3 linked regions of the Homo sapiens genome follow. The protein of the gene in region 3 purifies or fractionates together with the protein of the main gene of each other region. This does not show direct contact. Each region holds a gene or a part of one and is shown on either strand. Other genes may lie near its edges.

Region 1 (7,728 bases), on a different chromosome or scaffold from region 3:
GTGCTTGAGCTGCAATCCCAGAGACAGCTTTTCAGGGCTAGGGGAAGAGGTCCCATCTCTCCCTGGGCCTGGTGACCATCCACTCCACAGCTGACCATCAAAGGCTCAACTTAGGCCTTGGACTGGGCTGTAAAGGGGCACGACACTATCATGCCCAAATTAGAGCCTTCAGGGAGTAAAACTGGCTTTCTTAGGAAACTCTAGTCTGGACCTAACCAAAGTAAATGGCTCTCGATGGAACTCCTCATTCCCCAGCCAGCACATGCATGGCCCAGCCAAAGTGTCTAAGTACCAGATCTCTACCCGTCCCAGCCCCACCTCTTCTACTCACCCACTGCCAGGGTCTCCCGGGCTCCCGTTCCAGTGCCTCCACCGCGGCCACAGCCTGCTCTCCGCTCTCAGGCTCCTGCGCCCGCACCCAGCTCTGGATCTCCCGGGGCAGGATGGCCAGGAACTGCTCCAGCACCAGCAGCTCCAGAATCTGCTCCTTGGTGTGCCTCTCAGGCCGCAGCCAGCCCCCGCACAGGTCCCAGAGGCGCTGCAGGGCCTCCCGGGGGCCCGCCGCCTCCTGGTAGCGGAAACGGCGGAAGAGACGCCGAGAGGACTCGGGGCTGGGAAGCTCCCCCTGGGGGCTAGGGTTCTCTCCAGGTGGGCTCCTCATTTTCCTGGGCTCCTCACTTTCCTTCGGAGCCAAGACTCGGGGGCACAGGGCTGTGGGCATGATGGGATTTGATGGGGGTCAGCAGCAGAAGACGACCCTATTTCCAAACAGAAATCACTGGCTTCAGTGTTCTGGTCTCCTGTGGTCATTTCTGGGGGACAGTGACAAGGAAACTGTCAATGCCCTCAGAGACCAGCCCTTTGGAGAAGCCCTGGGAAAGGTAGGGAGTGTTGGTGTGGCTGGTCTTTACACACAGGATGAAACAGACAGAAAGATGCCCTCCCCCCATCAGTACCATTACGTGTGGATTCCCGTTAAGTGGGTGACTGGATGAACAAGACAGGAAATCTGGGAGAAAGTGGTGGCATTTCAACGTGACACTGCTGTTTTGAGCATCCCAGGAAACCAACAGCGCCACATGCAGATGTAATCAAGACGCTCTGGTACCTTGGGTGGCTGGGTCCTCCTGGAGAGATCCGAGATGGGCAGGCCAAGCAGGCCACTATCTTGAAGCTCCGGAGCCGAAGTCACTGTTCTTGTTATTAAGACCTTTACAAATGGAGCTGGAATGACAAAGACATGCATCGGATGAGCCTTCAAGCACATCCAGGAATGGAAAATCCACCCTTCTGGTGGCAGAGGGCTGATGGTGCTGCGTGCTGGATGGACAACCCAGCCAGAATCAGCTTTGCCCAGCAGAGTCTGCAATGGGAGGCAAGGGAAAACATCACATGAGACAGCTACATGCAGTCTACCAGGGACAAATAACACTGCATCTAGAAGTATCAGTGGTTTCCTATGAGCCTTCTGCCAATTCTGCCCTGACCTTCAACCTCGCCTCCACCCTATTCTCTATCCTTGCCCTCTTCAAACCACATTGAAGGCAACTGCACACTCGCCAAAGCCCTTCCTCGGCCAGGACAGAAAAGTGGGTCCGTCACTGCACAGCTCAGCCCTCAAAGAACCCCTGGACACTGCAGCTGCCACACCCCCAAGGTGGGACTCAGGGGTCCCTACACCTCCCCGCTGGTGTGCAGACAACTAGCCGACACTTTTGCCACAACTAGGGTGGCAAGAGACCAGCAACCAGTATACCTGGTGTTTATGATTCCCACTTTAGAACGCTGGGCCCGTGAAAGGGCACATGGGGACACTCACAGTCCCCTTCTCTGCCATCAGGCCTCTGTGATCCTTAGGACCGGCAGTGCCTGCCACTCCCCCATCTGCACGAGGTTGTCCAGCGTGGCCGCGTCTTAACCTCCAACAGCTCACAAGGTGGGAAGGGGGACTCGGGCCTCACTCCCATTTCACAGAAAGACAAGTGATGCCAGAAAAGCTACGGAACAACTGAGTGGTTCCAGAAACACCCACTGCTCTGAATCTCTTTGCTTTCCAAAGTAACAACATACACAGAAACCCATATGGGGGCCGTGGCGGCGTCGGGCTGGACGCATTACAGCGCTCCCCACCACCGGATCGCTTCCAGGGCGGCTCCGGCATCTGGAGCCCGGGGTGGGCCCCGCCCGCCCTGCTCGGCGGCCCCCTGCGGCGCCCATCACACACCTGCAGCGCCCAGGACTACTCAGGCCCGCCCCCCCGAGCACCGGCGCCCACCCGGGCTGCCACTCGGATCGTCTCCAACCAGACGGCCGCGTCCGTCTTTGTCACGGCGGCACCTGGCGCGTCGGAGGCTCGGAGGAGATGCCTGATGAATGAACTAACGTGAGTGAGGCGGAGGAGGGCCCCGCAGGGGCGGAGCGAGCTCCCAGCCTTTCGCGGAGGAGGGACCGAGCTGGATCGGCAGAAAGGGAAGGAGAAGGTCGCTGTGGGCCAGGGAAGGGGGAGCCCGCCCTCCGCGCCCTCGGTCTCCCTCACACGCGCGTCTCCCGTCTCGCCGGCTCCGGGCTCCTCACCTCACAGCCTGGAGCTCCCTCCCGGCGTCCGGCCGAAAACCCTCCTGTGGCGGCGGAAGTCCAGGGCAGCCGTCCTCATCCTCCCAGCCCGCCCGGCCGGGCGTACTCGCTGAGGCGGGGTCTCCGCAGGCGCCCGGCTCCTTTCCCGGCCCGTCCAGACCGCGTCTCCCGATCATCCGGAAAGCCACGGCTCGGCTCGGGGGCAAATGGAGGCGCCTGAAAAACAATGGTGTTGCTTTCTCCCCCGCCCGCACCTTCCTGAGCGCTGGGCTCTGGGCTGGGAGGCGGCGCCGCGGAGGCCGGGCGCGGGCCGAGGAGGGCGGGGCGGGGCCGGCCGCGGGAGCCGGGGTGCACTCACCGCCGCGGCGCGTCCCTGTTGGCGGGCGGCGCAGGCCTGGCCGCCGCGGGAGCCCGCCGGACGCCGAGGAAAGGAAAGGCCGGAGCCCTCCGGCTCCCTCCCCTGGGACACTTCCTGCTCCGCTCTAGGACTGGGGAGGTCTCCGCATCTCAGTGGTTCGCTCCCCCGCCCCCCGGCCGAGGTGTGCGCTGGGGGTGACATCCGACACCCCCGGCCCGCCCCGCTCCGCGCGCGCCTGGGCCTGGCCGCCGGGCCGGGGGCTTTGTGGGTCAGCCACGTCGCCGCGCCCGGGCTTCCCCGCGGGCCCGCCGGTCCGGAAGGTCGGCCCGGGGCTCTTTTCTCCGCTGTTCTCCTTCTCTGGCGCCCCCAGGACACGCGGCCAGTGGACGCCCGGAACGGCCGACCGGGAGTCGCGGCTGGGGATGGAAGCTGGAATTGGGGGTGCGGGATGGAGCGGAGAGAGGAGGCCCCGCGCGCCGTCGGCCGCCTCATTTCAGACTCCCCTGCGACCCCCCCCCCGCCGCCAGCCGAAGCCCGGGCCGCCCAGCCCCTCCTGCCGCTGCGGGACGCCGAAGGTAGCGCTCACATCCGCGCCTTCCGGGCCTGGCGCCCACGTGCGGAGTCCCCGGGTTAGGAAAGGCCGCGCATCCGGAGGCCACGCAGAGCCTCGGGGCTTGCGCAGAGGGGCTGCGGTGAGTCCTGACCCTGAGTGGGGGTCACGGGGCTCGTTGCTCGCTGAAGTGAACACGGTTGCAGCTGTGCACAGTGGCGGAGGGAGAGGATGAGGGACTCTGACCCAAGGTTATGTGGCAGTGAGGGGCAAGCAGAAATGGGGGCCTCCGGACCCCACCCCGAGACAGGGCTGCTGGCCGCTGCACTATGCTGAATATAGCCCAAATTCTTACATGGGTCGTCCCCGGGGAATGCTCATTTTTCAGGCTCCAGAGCTTGAGAGAAAGTGCGAACCCGGTCCCTGAGCAGGTCTGATTCCCATGGCCCCTTCGCCATCTGCTCTGCACCGAAATTGGATTCTCCTACGCAGAGGAGAAGGTGGAGAAGATTCTCCGTCTTCCGGAGGGTAGCTACTGCCGGTAGCTCCGATTTCCTTCGGATCCCCTTTCAAGGGCAAGCAGAAGGAAATCAGTTTCTCCAAAGAAAGTGGCCCGGCTGAGTAAGTGGGAACAAGGTGGTTGGACTGAGGCACGGGATCCTTTAGCTCCGTTGCTCTTCTAATCCCGTGGCCCTGGGCACCGCCACTTCCTCCTCTGAACTGCTGGAATAATCACTTCTGACTAGCAGAGTTACTGGGAGCCGCTGTTTGTCAGTGTTCACATTCTGACTTTAGCAGGAGATGGAGCGAGCGAAGGAGTGAAGCCCTTGTTTGTGAACAGTGATTGTTTCCCGGATGACAGCCAGATGCCGGGCAGGGCCACGCAGATCTTAGCTGGAGCCTACAGGTACAAGTGAGAGCCACCCCCTTTGACGTAACTGGACTGGCATTTACAGAACTCATGTACAGCCCACTCTCAGGAACACCAGCCAGGAACCGTGACATGGAGGAGAGGAATTGGGAGGAACCGAGGGGTCATCAAAGGCTGGTAGGGCTTAGGTGCTCTAGCAAACATCCTAGTCTGTGGGGTTCCAGAGCTCTGGTGCTACAGCTCCCAACCCTTTGATTGGCCCAGGAACTGGCTGTTGAGTGGGCATCCGTGTTCATAGCTCTGCCCCTTGCAACCCTAAAGCAGATAAAATGCAGGAGGCAGAAATTGCTGGCAGACAGCATCCAATTAATCCCCACTACCCAATTCAGTTTCTTCCCCTGACCTGACACGTCCCTGCCCAGCTGTGCCTCCCACTGTTCACCTTTTGAGGCACAAAACGGGCTGTTTATGCTGCTGCTGCATTTAGCTCAAAACAGGGCTTCAGAGTCAAGGTTCTGGACTCAGGCACCCGGATTAAATCCTGCCCTATGAATTCCTAGCCAGGTGACCTCAGGCCTACATAACCTTTCTGTACCTCAACTTCCTCATCCAGAAAACAGGGATGATGCTGTCTACCTCATTGGATGGTTGTGCAGGATCAAAGATTCAGTCATTCAGCAAACCTATACCGAGTACCTACTGTACACTCATGAGTGCTAGGCAGCCAGCCTTCCAGGTGCTCAGGTACATCTGTGAACACAACTGGCTATTGGAGGAAGCAAAATCAGTAACATGACCTGCTCTCTTTGATCTGTGCTACAGAAAAAAAGGAAAGTGGAGAGGCATCAGGAAGTCAGGAGTGCTGGGGAGGGGCTGGTAACAGTCATGGTATTAAAGAGGAGGGCAGGCAGGCCTTACTGTGAAGGTGGTATTTGAGATGAAGTAGTTGGTCAGAGTCCCTGTTTGACACATGGAGACCACCTTGACAGCAAAGGCCCTAAGGGGGAGCGGTGCGAAGCAAGGTGGGCTGGTGAGTGAGAGGAGAGGGATGGCATAGAGCTGGGTGGGGGCACAGGAGCCCGTGGGGAAGGTGTTCGCCTCTGAATGAAGTGGGGTTGTATCAGATACCACGGGTGAAGCATCGGGAAGAGGATCCTGCCTGTAAACCCTGCTCAAGGACTGCACCATCATCATGCCCAGTGTGTGCGTGTATTAGGTTTGTATGAATATAATGTTGCCAATTGTATCTGTTTTTATGAAATGTTTGCTATGTGCCAATGATTATTCGATCCATGGGGAGACCATAGAAGAATGATCCAAGGAGTTGGGAGGGGAATCAAATAATAAATCAGCGATTCTGCAATATAACGCCATTGGTGATCGGTGTCATGAAAGAAATACAACATGGTGGGGAAGAGTGTGCTGGGGATGTTCAGGTAGGGCCTCTGTCAGGAGGTGACATTTGAGTGGAGAGCAGGTGGGGGGCTCCTGAGCAGAGGTGTGTGGGAAGAGTATTCCAGCAGAGGAAACAGCGTGTGCTTGCTCAGCTGGGCAGAGGAATAGTGAGAGAATGGTGAGGCTGGAACCAGGTCACCAGATGTTATAGTCATTAGAGGGTTTCAAGTAGGAGTGTGGCCTAACGGAATCTTGATTTTATCAAGATCACTGTGCAGAACAGATGAAGCAGAGTCTCTGTTAGGAATCGTTGTAGAGATCCCGGCAGGAGATGCTCGGTTCCTGGAGTTGACTGGTGGAGGCACAGCTGGTGAACAGTAGGCCCAATCCAGGCTCTGTGTTGAAGGCATGCTGCCTGTGTTAGAGGAGTGAGGAACGGCTGTGACTGGGGCTGAAACTGGGTGACTGAACAGGCCTTCTAGAGATGGCAGATGCAAGGAAGCAGGTTTCCAGGAAGGGGTTGGGTTTGGGGTTGAATTGGTGGATTTGGGACTTGCTGGTTTTCAGATGCCCAGGAGACAAGTGGGGATGACCCTCTGGGATAGAAAGCTGTGGCTGGAGGTGGAAATCTGGAGTCACCGTATGTAGCAGGAGCTGGGGCTTGAGAGGGTTGAGTGTGTTTTGAGAAGCAGCCCCAGGGAGGGCAGACCCTGCGAAATGCCAGCCCTGGACCGTGGGAGCCCAAGGGGTTAGTGGAGGAGAAGGGAGAGAAGGGGAAGTAGGAGGAGGAAAGTGAGGGAGGACGAGGGCAAGAGAAGGGGGTAGGGAGAGCTGCTGCCGCCTTGAGATAAAAGGAAAATTGCAGGTGTGGAGCCCTGGAATCCAAGTGAGCACCTGTGTTTCAAGGAGAGAAAGAGGTCAGGGGGATAAATCCTGCGCCAAGATCAAATCCGATGAGGAAAGAACACTGCCCATTGAATCTGGTAGAGAGGCCCCTGAGCAAAGCAGACAGTGGAGCTCCTGGGCTAGGGCACTTTCTGGAAGAGAAGGGAGATGAGAGTGGACACAGCCCTGTGGAGAAAAACGGTCTCATCTTAAAGATGGGAGAAATTGCAGTGCATCGCCTGGAGGAGGGAGGGCTGGCACCCAGGGCCCACGGGGAGCCGGAGGGCAGGGAAGGCTGCCTCTGGACCTGAGGCATGTCCACAGCATCTGGGCAGGGAGAGCCTGGGGCAGGCTTCTTCCAACTTTGCCAACACTCCAGTAAAATAAGGAGCAAGTGTGACGTTTTATTTTATGAGGCAACTTGGCTAGCTGTGGTACTCAGTTTTTGTTCAAACACCAGTCTGGTGTTTCTGTGAGGCTGTTTTTTAGATATGATTAATAGTTAAATCTGTAGACTTTGAATGCAGCGGGTTACCCTCCATAGCGTGGGCGGGCTTCATCCAATCTGTCGAAGGCCGTAAGAGCAAAGACTGCAGTCTCCTGAGGAAGGAACTCCCCCTGCGGCGCGCCTTCCGACTTGCTGCAGCTTCGGCTTTCTGGATCTGCAGCCTGCCCTGCAGATTTTAGACTTGCAAGCCAATCAGTTCCTTAAAAGAAAACAGTCTCCCTCATCTCTCTCTATTGATCTCTAGCTCTCTATCCCCACCCCCTTCCCTCCCCCCACTCCACATGCTATTTGTTCCGTTTCTCTGGAGAACCCTGACTGCTACACAGGGCCCTTAAGTGACAGGGAGAAAGAGAGGGTGAAATGTGAGAGCAGGAGGAAGAGGGCGTGAGACGGCCATCTTGCAGAGTGGAAAGGTGAATGGACGATAACAAAGGAAAGGGTGAATTATATATAACCTGGAAAGTGAAGTGTGCACAAGGAAATGTGATGTGTAACCTAAAGCCCCAGTGCTTTGCAGGTGGGCAGCCGTTCCACTGTGACATCGCCCCCCAGGTGGGCAGCCGTTCCACTGTGACATCACCCCCTGC
Region 2 (7,328 bases), on a different chromosome or scaffold from region 3:
CTGTGTCATGATTTTGGTGGTCGTTTCACAAATCTAAAACTCAGAAATATCTGCCCCCCCAAAAGTGCCATATTTTGCTGTCTGTTAATTTTATTAAGAGAAGAACTCCATAAATAGAGAACAAATAATGAAACAAATAAACAAAGCCAAAAGTTGATTCTTTGAAAAATTAATAAAATTGATAAGCCTCAAGCAAAACTTGAAGTCTTGATTAAGAAAAAAGAAACCAGAAATTAGCAATGTCAGGAATGAAAGAGGGGACATCCCTACAAACATTAAAAAGATATTAAGGAACTCACATTAATGATATTAAGGAAATAATTGTGAACAACTTTATGCCAATAAATCTGACAACTTAAATGAATTAGACAGATTTCTTCAAAGATACAAACCATTTCCCCTTATATCTCATGGACCAGAAATGAATCACATACTCATTCCTCGGTGCCAGCAAGGCAAAGCGAGGGTCTGGCACAGGGAAGCAGAATGGTCATGGATAGCTTAGCTCAATTACACTTTATTGCTTACAGCTGGGCACACTGTTCCCCCTCTCCATCCAAAAAAATCAGGAGTGTATTAGAAGCAAGGGAAAGCACTTTGTGTGGGAAGCTAACGATGCTTGCCTATTAGGTTTTCAGTCACTTGCAATCAAAAGACTCCTCATACTGTATACTTACTAGCTAAAATGGAATCTTTAAGCAATGTACTTAAAGTGCCCAGAGGGAGATACTTTTGAGCTGAAGGGGACTGAGAGCTCCAAAGCCTGGAAAAAAAATCAGTCTTGGATGGAATCTGATAACACCAAATCTGAAGGTCTATGCTTTCCTTCCAGTGTGAACACTTTTTTTTTTTTTTTGATCAGGATCTCACTCTGTCCACAAGGCTTAAGTACAGTGATGCGATCAGAGCTCACTGCATCCTCAACCCCTCAGGTTCAAGAAATCCTCCCACCTCAGTCTCCTGAGTACCTGGGACCAAAGGTGCAGGCCACTATGCCCAGCCTGAAAACTTTTCTGGCTGGCTTCCTCCATTTCAGGGTGCCTCCCTTCCCTCTTAGCACACTATCTCATTTAGGAGCCCTTACAGGCCTTCTGCTTTTCTCTACTGTAGCACTTCTACACTGCCTTGTGAATACTTGTTTTTTTCTGTTGTTGTTGTTTATTTCCTTAACAAGATGGTAATGTTAAAAGAAGGAATCAAACTGGACATGGTGGCTCACAACTGTACTCCTAGCGTTTTAGAAGGCTGAGGCGGGAGGATCCCTACCAGGAGTTCCAGGCTGCAGCAAGCTGTGATTATGCCACTGCACTCCAGCCTGGGCAACAGAGTGAGATCTCATCTCTTTTAAAGGGAAAAACAAAGACGGAATCATGACTTCATTTTATTCATCTCTATTATCTCTGGTACCCAGGTAGTATCTGTCTGGTCATTTTGTTCGTTTTACCATTAATTAATGAATCAGATGTTTGGTATCAAGGCAAGGTTGAAAGATTTGGCTGGTAAAGAAATGAACCCTTTTTGAATTTAGACATATTATTATTTGCACAGACATTGAAAGCAAAAGCAAGTGCCAGCTCTCCATGAGCTTTTGTCTCAGATACCAAAATGATGACACCAAAACAGAAGGGGCTGGATGACTACAGCATACACTGTGGACACCTTGTTGCTGAGGGGTTAATGCCATGCTGCAGCTAAGCCTTGTTATAACCTGCAGCTGTACTCTAAGAGGGTAAGGCAGAATGGCTCGTTGGAACCCAGGAAGCAATAGAAACTGCCTCATGATAGTCTCTTTGGAAGACAGAGAGCTGAGTGGGAAATGGCCTTGCACTAGCTGCTTACAAGCCTCTCATGCACTCATCTTCTGGGAAGATCCCAAGGTGTTCTGCCAAGACTCAGATCAGCTGTGGTTCAGGCATTGCCTATGTGGCCTATGTGGATATGTGCAAGGTTGTCAGGCCCGGGTATGAAGCTGCTCCCTCCATTCAGGTTGTCCAGAGGAACATGTTTTATCTTGACTAGATCTTTAAGATGGCAACAAGGGCCACCATTCAGGAAAAAATCCCAGAGGACCTCAGAAGGATGGTGTTTCAAAGCGGGTGTTAGTAGCCCCTGCCCTCAAAGGAGTAACTTAGTGAGGAAAACCTTACTGTGGTTTCCATTTAGTAGTTTACAAATAATTAATAATAATAGAATGGAGGCCAGGCACGGTGGCTCATGCCTGCAATCCTAGCAATTTAGGAGGCCAAGGCAGGAGGGTCACTTGTGCCCAGGAGTTGGAGAGCAGCCTGGGAAACATAGGAAGAACTCATCTCTGAAAAACAAACAAACAAACAAACAAATTAGCTGGGCATGGTGGAGCACACCTGTTGTTTAAGGACTTATCAAAAGTGTAAGTCCAGCCTTCCATAAGCATTTCAAGATAAATTATTACAGCATAAAATGGAGGCCTTTAAATAGGAGAATGAAGTGGTTTGATTTGTAATTTTAAATGATTGCATCAACAGCTGTTTTATGGTATAAAATGCCCAGTTAGGAGGCTGAGGCGGGAGGATCACTGAGTCTGGGAGGTTGAAGCTGCAGTGAGCCAAGACTGCACCATTGCCCTACAGCCTGGGTGACAGAGCAAGACCCTGTCTCAAAAACAAAACAAACAATATAATCACAGGAAAAGGGTTTTGTAAAATTTTGCAACATTTTTAACTTCCTCAAGGTTAGGTTTCAGATTTATTATTTTTGTTTTCCAACATTAATTAGATGTAAAAACTCTTAAAACAAAAATGCCTTCAGCTAGCCTTTACAAATCAGATAAGAGGGAAAGGTTGGGAAGAGCAGCCAAGTTGCTTAGGGGCCGTATCCAAGTAGCAGAGTGAAAAGGCTGTACTTCTGAAGCTTCCTGCAATGGAGAGAAGTGTTAGCAGGGGTTGTGAGAAGAGCTCTGGTCGGAATGAAAAGCAGTGGTATACCATCAGCTGCTCGCTCACTTGCTCTCTCATGCACGAATCCAGCGGAGCCTGACGGCACTTTTCAGAGGGCATTTTCTCCAATGAGGCAAAAAGTCAAAGCCTGAGGATCTTGAAATGCTTATGTTAGGCTGGATCTACACTTTTGACCAGTCCTTAAACAACAGGGCTCCTTTGTGTGGTGTCTGATGCCAATCATGTGACCTAGCTAAAGGCAGCAATGTAACCATCCCACAATTCATTTATTTATTCAACAAATATTTATTGAGTTCTCTATTTACCAGGCAGTCAGCTTCCAGGATCTAGGATGGGATACTGTGGTGAGCAAGACAGACAAGGTCCCTGCCCTTAAGGGACTTAAAGACAAAACAAAACAAAAAATAAAACAAGTAAATAAATGAGATCACTTCCATTAATAACAGTGCCATGAAGGGTCATGCGCCATGAAAGGCAGGTGGTGAGGCTGAGGATCTTGGGCCACAATGAGCCGAGGAGCTGAGGTGACTGGGGGCGCCAGGGTCTGGGGGTGCGGGCAGGCAACAGACCACAGGGGACTTACAGGCCATTATAAGGAGTTTTTATGTCATAAATTATTATGACATAAATTGGAGGGCTTTAAATAGGGGAGTGAAGTGGTCTGATTTGTAATTTTAAATGATCGCGTCAGCAGTTGTTTTATGGTATAAAATGCCCAGCTTTAAGATGACCATGCATTCTACAAATTCACCGTGACATCACTGCCAAAACTCTTAACCTGTCTTATCTAGTTTTCCTGACAGATAAATAGGTCGGAATAAAGCTCCATGACATAACTAGTGGGAGCCAAAGATTTGAATCACGTCTTGGTTTCAAATCTTGCTACCCACAAATGAGTTGTGAGCTCTTGTCAGGTTATTTACTGTATTTGTGCCTCAACTATCTCAGCTGTGAAATGGGGATAATGAAAGTTCCTACATCATTTATTTGTGGAAAAAAAAATGACATGTAAAGCACGACGAGAGCGCCTGGCACAATGTAGTAAGCTTTCACAAACACTCACTTTCATTCCTTCTTGCAGGGGATTACTGAGAGGATCCACAAGATAATGCACGTGAAAGGGCTTGCGAAATTGTAAGGACTATCTTAATGGTAGAGTCCTCTTTATGTTTTCTTTTAAACGGTCCAGAGGACGCTGGGCTGTTCGAGGAGAGGCGCGAGGCCAAGCGCAGCCTCAATGCGGTCATTGTCGTGGGGCCGCCCCTCCCCCGCCCGGGGCGCTTCTCCATGGCAACGTGGGCTTTACCTCTCCCCGCCTCCTCAGGCCCGCAGACCGGAAGCAGCCCGCGCCGGGGGCTTCTGGGAAAAGGCTTGTGAACGGCGTTTCTGCGTCTGCCGTGGACAGCGAAGCTGCTGCGGTTCCTGAGCCGGAGGTTTGCGCCGGTGTGCGGGGAACGTTATGAGAGGGAGGGGGGACACCGGGCTAGGGTCTGCGGACCTCTTAGCAGGAGCCGGCGGGGAAGCCTGTCCGGGACCTTCCTCAGCTTCCCGGGAGGCGCGGGGAACAGGCCGCGGTCTCCGCGCCTAGCAGTTGTGGGGCGGGGAGGGGTAGGCGGCAGGCCTGCTTGGGTCTTCGGCATTTGCAGAGAGCTCTCTAACCCCCTGTGTCCTCCGAGACCCTCACCTTCCCCCTCCCCCACCGGCCGGTTTTGTTCTATTTCGAGGCCCTGGCGTCTCGCGGAGGGTTCTGGGAGTCGTGATGGGAGGGGGTGGTAGTGGGACGAGACTTGCGCGGGGCTTCTGGGATTTGTAGTCTCACCGGCCGCAGGCGGAAGTGCCGTGGTTCCGACGCTGTTGTCACAGGGTGGCCTTTGGTCATCTGAAATCCGCGGTCCTGAGTGCTGGGAAGAGGGGCTAGAGGACGTCGGGCCGGGGCCGGGGCCGGGGCCGGGATACACAGCAGGTCTATGCAGCAGTAAGGTGGGCGATCCACCTGGGACGAGGTACCCTGCCCAAACATTGTCGGGACCGTGGGCCTTCCCTCCATTTCCCACAAGCGGTATGCTCTACAGCATAAAAGGAAGAGAAAATTATGTAGAAATACTTGCACCGTTGATAAGCAGGGTCTTGGAATAGGAACGAATGAATGTTGGCTAGACCTTATGTATAAGGCCACCACACTCCAGGGTATTTAATTAAACCAGTATGTATTACTTGTCTGATAAGGCCTTTTCTGATTCTAGTCTTCATCTTGCTTGGGTTACAATAAGTTTTTTTAAGTTGTTATTGTTCAGATTTTGGGCCCTGAATAAATAAATAGGCTGAATGGCTCATTGCTAGTATGTGTCGTAAACAACAGCACGGGCATGATCGTGCAAATAATAAAGGTCCAGAAGCAGTATACAGTTTCACTGAAGGTAGAAGCTGGGGAAACTGTGAGTCCTCCAGTGTAAGGACAAGACACTGGACCACTGCAGGAAGTCAAGGTGCTTATGCGAGTGCCTTTTCTTAATAGAAGTTTCTGTGATTAATGCCTATCATTATAAATATAAATGTACGTATGGTGTGGTGGAAGACTGAATATTTACGTATTATGTGCAAGATAATTTTTCAAAATTATGTGATGTTTTTCACATATGATCTTTTCAATATTATGTGATCTGCTACTCAGCAAGTGAACATTTTTTCACATATAAGTCCAAGGAGTTCTTAAACACCTTAAAAATATTTTTTAAATGGTAAAGAAAATTTTTTTAAGCACATAATAATAAAGCGAACCTTCCTTTTGAGTTGACTTGTGTGTGTCAGGAAACACCAATCCTGAATTGGAAATAATGCGTTCCAGGGTCAGGCACATTTAGAAAGCACTGAAGTAGTCTGGTTCTTACTTGGATTCTTTTGATTATTGACATAGGGTTTGTCGTCTTAGTAGGTCATGATTGGCAAACTTTTTCTGTAAGCGGCCATATAGTAAATAAGGTCATGCATAACTCAACGATAGTGCTATGGTCTGAGAAATATGTTAGGCTATTTCATCCTTGTGTGAACGTCATAGAATGTACTTGCACAAACCTAAATGGCGTAGCCTACTACACACTTAGGCTATCTGGTATAGCCTATTGCGCCTAGGCTACAAACCGGTACGGCATGTTGCTGTACTGAATACTGTAGAGAATTGTAACACAATGCTAACTATTTGTGTATCAAAACATAGAAAAGATAAGAGTAAAATATGATATAAAATGTTTGAAAAAAAAAAAAGATATGCCTGTACAGGGCACTTACCATGAATGGACCTCGCTGGATTGGAAGTTGCTCTAAGAAGTCAGTGAGTGAGTGGTGAATTTGGAGGCCTGGGACATTATTGTACATTCCTATAGACCATATAAACACTGAACACTTAGGCTACACTAAATTTATTAAGAAAACATTTTTCTTCAATAATTAACCTTAGCTTACTGGAACTTTTTCACTTACAAACTTTTACATTTTTTTTTAACTTTTTTACTCTTTTGTGATAACACTTCACTTAAAATACAAACACATTGTACAGCTGTACAAATATATTTATATCCTTATTCTGTAAGCTTTTTGCTTTTTTTTTTTTATAGACAGAGTCTCGCTCTGTCGCCAGGCTAGAGTGCAGTGGCGCGATCTTGGCTCACTGCAGCCTCCACCTCGCGGGTTCAAGAGATTCTCCTGCCTCAATCTCCCCAGTAGCTGGGACTACAGGCGCAATCCACCACGCCCAGCTAATTTTTGTATTTTTAGTAGAGACAGGGTTTCACCATGTTGGCCAGGATGGTCTTGATCTCTTGACCTCGTGATCTGCCTGCCTCAGCCTCCCAAAGTGCTGGGATTACAGGCCTGAGCCACCGTGCCCGGCACAGCTTTTTGCTATTTTTAAATTCATTTTTTAGAGACAGGGTCATACTCTGTTGCCCAGGCTGGAATGCAGTGGTGTGATCATAGCTCAGTGGAGCCTTGAACTCCTGGTCTTTAGTGATCCTCCTGCCTCAGCCTCCTATAGTGCTGGGATTACAGGTGTGAACCATTGCACCTGGCCAATTTTTTTTTTCTTTTGGAACTGTTTTTGTTAAAAGCTAAGATAAACACATTAGCTTAGGCTTACACAGGGTCTGGATTATCAGTATCATTGCCTTCTACCTCCATATCTTGTCCCACTGGAAGGTTTTCAGGAGCAGTAACATACATGGAGCTGTCATCTCCATAATAACAGTGCCTTCTGTAATACCTCCTGAAGGACCTGCCTGAGGCCATTTTGCAGTTAACTTTTTTATTTAGTAAGTAGAAGGAGCACACTCTAAAATAATATAGTATAAAAAGTATAGTAAATACATAAACCAGTAACATAGTCGTTTATTATTGTTA
Region 3 (4,137 bases):
ACAGTCAGCCCAACACTGTGTTTCCAAGTGAAGTCGGGAGGAGAAAAAGAAAAAGGCAAAAACTTTTAAGGCTTTTGCTTGAAAGGGGACGAGTGTCCGACAACAATGAGTTGGGGACGGGTGAGAAGCCGAGTCCGAGGCTGGCTCCCCGCTGTGACGTCACCGCCTGCCCACACTCTGCTCCAGCCTAGCAGGAGAGGCGGGCCCACTCTTTGGAGACCATCTGATCCTTCCTGGCAGACCAGAAAGCCAGATTTTTATGGTTTAAACAAATGTTGGCATCTATCTAAAAAAAAAATCCTTCTGTAAGTCAAACAAAATACAGGCAGGTCAGTTTTGGTCAGGCCTAAAGACTGCGCCTGAAATCCTCAGAGACAGGAAGCAGATTCTGGTTGTCAGGGCGGGCAGGAATGGCGAAGGCGTGCTGAGGACTGTGGGCTCTCTTTCTGGGCAAGACGAAAACATCTTTGGAGCTAGAGAGTGCTGGTAGTTGCACAGTGTTGTGAATGTGCTTAATGCCACTGAACTGTTCATTTTTAATGACTGAAATGGTAAATTTTATGTTGCATGTACTTTACCCAAAAAAGGAAAAAAACAAAACCCTGTTTATCTGTTAGGTTCCAAGGGGGCTAAGCTGGCAGGAGGGCAGCCGGGGTCAGCTGTACCCTTCTCTGGAGTTGGAGCTGCCCAGGCCGGCTCCCACCCTCATGGCCTCAGGGATATCCACAGTGAAATGAAAACCCAGCGGCAGAAGCTGCCGCTGAGTCAGGTGCTAACAGGGAGACCTGGACAAGGCTTCTGAAAGATGGGACGCGAATGAAACTCCTCTTCAAGCCACTTGCAAAACTATAGTGCGCAGGACTGACCAGGCTGTGCTGTGGAACTGCTGCTTCTCAGCTGAGACCCTGGGAAGCCCCATCCCGTGCTTGGCTTCGGAGCAGGTGTCCAGGGTCTTCCGAGAAACAGCTTGTGTCCTTCAAGAGGAGTCCCAAGGTGGCCAGGGGTTGGTGGGGCTGGGGGATGTCCCCCATCTTCTGGGGCCCATCAGCTCCCCCCAGGGACTCAGGGCCGGGTGGCCGAGGCCCGAGGCTGGCCATTCACATGTGGCCGTGGGCCGTGTGGAGCTTCTGGTGGTCAATGAGGTGGACCATCCAGGGGAAGGCCTTCCCGCAGACGCTACACTGGAAGGGTCTTTTGGGGCTGCGAGGGGCCACTGGGCCCTGGGCTCCATCCCTGGGTGGGACGGACTCCCGGGGGCCCTTGCTCCGGGGGGCTTTCTTCCTCGGTGGCTCCAGCAGGTGGATCTTGCCATGCTCAGTGAGGACGGAGTTGTGCAGGAAGACCTTGCCACACTCGGGGCACGGAAAGGGCCCTTCCTCGCGATGGGTCTTCTGGTGCTCGATGAAGTGGGTGACCCAGGTGAAGACCATCCCACAGTCGGCACACTGGAAGGGCCGCCCACCTCGGGGCCCACGCGGCACTACCGAGATGCCTGCAACAGCCTCTTGGGTACCACCTTTGGTGTGCTTGAGGGATGGCTGGTGGCGGCCGCTCTGGTCAGTGTTCCTGTTTCTCCTTCGGGGACTGATTCTCTGAGCACTTGGACCCTTGGGGCTCGAGATCACAGTCCCTTCTGCCCGCAGGTCTGAGGAGGGCCCTGCGAGAAGGTCCTCAGGCTCGTCCCAGATACTCGGCTTCAGAGGCAAGCGGGCCCGGGACCCTGTGGAGGGCGAGGGAGATGGGTCACCTGTAGTGAGTGGATGGCCTTGGCATCTCCCTGTGCTCCCCAGGGGCACGGAGGACCCCAGTGACTGAGCCAAGTCCAGGCCCTTCCTCTGCTCAATACGGCCCCTGTGTCCTCCGTTCTGTCCTTTAAGATACAAGGGCACATGTGGCCGGTGCAGTGGCTCATGCCTGTAATCCCAGCACTTTGGGAGGCCGAGGAAGGTGGATCATGAGGTGAGGAGTTAGACACCAGCCTGACCAACATGGTGAAACCCCGTCTCTACTAAAATACAAAAATTAGCTGGGCGTGGTGGTGTGCGCCTGTAATCCCAGCTACTCAGGAGGGTGAGGCAGGAGAATCGCTTGAACCCAGGAGGCGGAGGTTGCAATGAGCCAAGATCACACCACTGCACTCCAGCCTGGGCAACAGAGCAAGACTCTGTCTCGAAAAAAAAAAAAAAAGGCACATGTTTTGGGAGCAGATCCCACAGCACTGGCCCTTGTTCCTACCTGGCTGGCCCTCTGGGTAACCCCGTGCTCCAACACTCTCAGACTGTCTGCCTTGGCTGCCGTTCAGGTGCGGAGGCTGAGGCCCTTCTCGTAGGGTGAACGATGTACATGGTGGTTCTAGGGGCCCCAGATCTCAGTCCTCACAGGAGGTGTGCATGCTTTCTGGGGGAAGTGTGGAGTTCACCACCGAAGCACCCAACTCAACCCATTAACAAAGTCTGTGGCTTTGGGTTGAAGTCCCAAACTCCATTTCCAACCCTTAATCCACACAGGAGCCAGACTCACCCAGCAAGCCAGGGGCGCGGGGCGCTTCGGCCTCCGCCCTGGTGTGCAGACTCTGCTGGAGCTGGGTAGTCTCCAGCCACTCACTTTCCTCGGGGAGTGCTGGGGCTGCTGCCACTGCATCCAGAATCAGCTCAGACGCCTAGAATGGCAAGCACAGGACTGTTCGGCAGCTGCCCCTCAGGAGCCATCCTCCCCACCACCACCGAACAACCAAGGAACGGGCGTCATCCCCAAAGGCTCTGTCCCAGGGCAGTGCGCGGTGTCGCGCCTGTTGTTCCCGTGCTTTGGGATGCTGATGCTGGAGGATTGCTTGAGGCCAGGAGTTTGGGACCAGCCTGGGCAACACAGCAAGACTCTGCTTATACAAAAAATAAATAACCACTCCTAAAGAGCTCTTAACAGGACCTGAGACAGAATTCGAGGGGCCCCTGTACAAAATGGAAATGCAAATCCCCTTGTTCAAAGATCGTTGATCATTTCAGGACAGTGACAACAGAGCATTAGATGGAGCCAGGGGACCTGTGCCACAGCTCGGGTCACTGTTACAAGCTGGGGCTCCTAACTCCCGTCCCCCAAGGCTGCACTGTCCTTGCCCACAAGCCCAGAGGAAGTGGGCGACTTCACAGACTTCACATCCCACCTGCGACCTATGACCTCTGATGCACCTAACCGTGTCCCGCCCAAAGCGGGGATCACCACTTCCTGGGAGGAGACTGAGCTGTGGTTGAAGAGCAAGAATTCGAAACAGAGGGGCTTGGCTTGGTGTCCAGGCTCCAGCCCTGCTTGTTGTGTGGCCCTGGATGAGGAGCTTTAGCTCTCTGGGTTTCCAGTGAGGATGTGGGTGCTACGTGCCCAGAGCCTGGTACCATCAAGGGCTCGGCAAACTGCAACGGAGTCGTGTCAAAGGAAAACACAGTGACACTTATCAATGCAAATCAGGTTGTTGGAGGAGGTATGTTGAGTCAAACAAAGCATCAGAAAAGACCAGGAGTCAAGCACGCACTGACAAGGTCTGTCTTGAGTGGGTCTTCGCTTTCTGCTGCCCCAACCCTACCTGGATGCACAGGGGCCTAAGGAAGCTGTCCAAGATTCCCAATAGCTGGGCAAAACTGGAGTAGAGGGATTGCTGGGCTAGAGACGGAGGAGGGAGGGAGGGAGGGAGGGAGCTGATGGCAGGAAGGGAGTTAAGGCACAAGATTCTTCCTGCTCTCACGTTGGGAGTATGTGGATGGTGTGTTTGGCTGGGTTATTGATTTTTATTTCTTATCAAATGCTAGTTTTGATTGTAAAACATGTTGAATTCTGAAATCGTAACCAGAGGAGCCACCATCTATAGGAGTAAAGGCGGGACTCCCTTTTACGCCTCTTCCTGGTACCTGGCTACTGGGGGCCATTGTGGACAGTCAGGCTCTTCCCTACTTCACCCACCTTGGCGTCTGTGACTAATCAAGGGCAGCAGAGGGGCTGCGTGGAGAGAAGAGTGGGTGGCATGTATGTGTGGAGAGAGGGGCATGCTTAGTTCCCCTGACTCTCAGGGGGCATCAGAGGAGCTATCGACACACTTGGGTCAGGCACAGAAACCAAGACATTCCCGGGGCCCTATCTGTACCTTCAAAT

What was found. The genes of interacting proteins can lie anywhere in the genome.
Region 1: the proteins of ZSCAN1 (region 3) and ZNF496 purify together in Homo sapiens (affinity purification with mass spectrometry; 3 studies listed by BioGRID and IntAct, with this or other methods). This does not show direct contact.
Region 2: the proteins of ZSCAN1 (region 3) and ZNF24 purify together in Homo sapiens (affinity purification with mass spectrometry; 3 studies listed by BioGRID and IntAct, with this or other methods). This does not show direct contact.

The regions. Positions count from the first base shown.
Region 1 is NC_000001.11:247,328,858-247,336,585, forward strand, and holds the start of ZNF496 (zinc finger protein 496), read right to left. Parts: upstream 3,011-7,728; 5' UTR 2,933-3,010; intron 2,791-2,932; 5' UTR 2,575-2,790; intron 1,225-2,574; 5' UTR 1,109-1,224; intron 759-1,108; 5' UTR 722-758; coding exon 332-721; intron 10-331; coding exon 1-9. UniProt on the Homo sapiens protein: DNA-binding transcription factor that can both act as an activator and a repressor.
Region 2 is NC_000018.10:35,341,411-35,348,738, reverse strand, and holds the start of ZNF24 (zinc finger protein 24), read left to right. Parts: upstream 1-4,318; 5' UTR 4,319-4,379; exon of another isoform or gene 4,380-4,685; intron 4,686-7,328. UniProt on the Homo sapiens protein: Transcription factor required for myelination of differentiated oligodendrocytes. Required for the conversion of oligodendrocytes from the premyelinating to the myelinating state.
Region 3 is NC_000019.10:58,051,012-58,055,148, reverse strand, and holds the end of ZSCAN1 (zinc finger and SCAN domain-containing protein 1), read right to left. Parts: intron 2,660-4,137; coding exon 2,521-2,659; intron 1,721-2,520; coding exon 1,098-1,720; 3' UTR 518-1,097; downstream 1-517. UniProt on the Homo sapiens protein: May be involved in transcriptional regulation.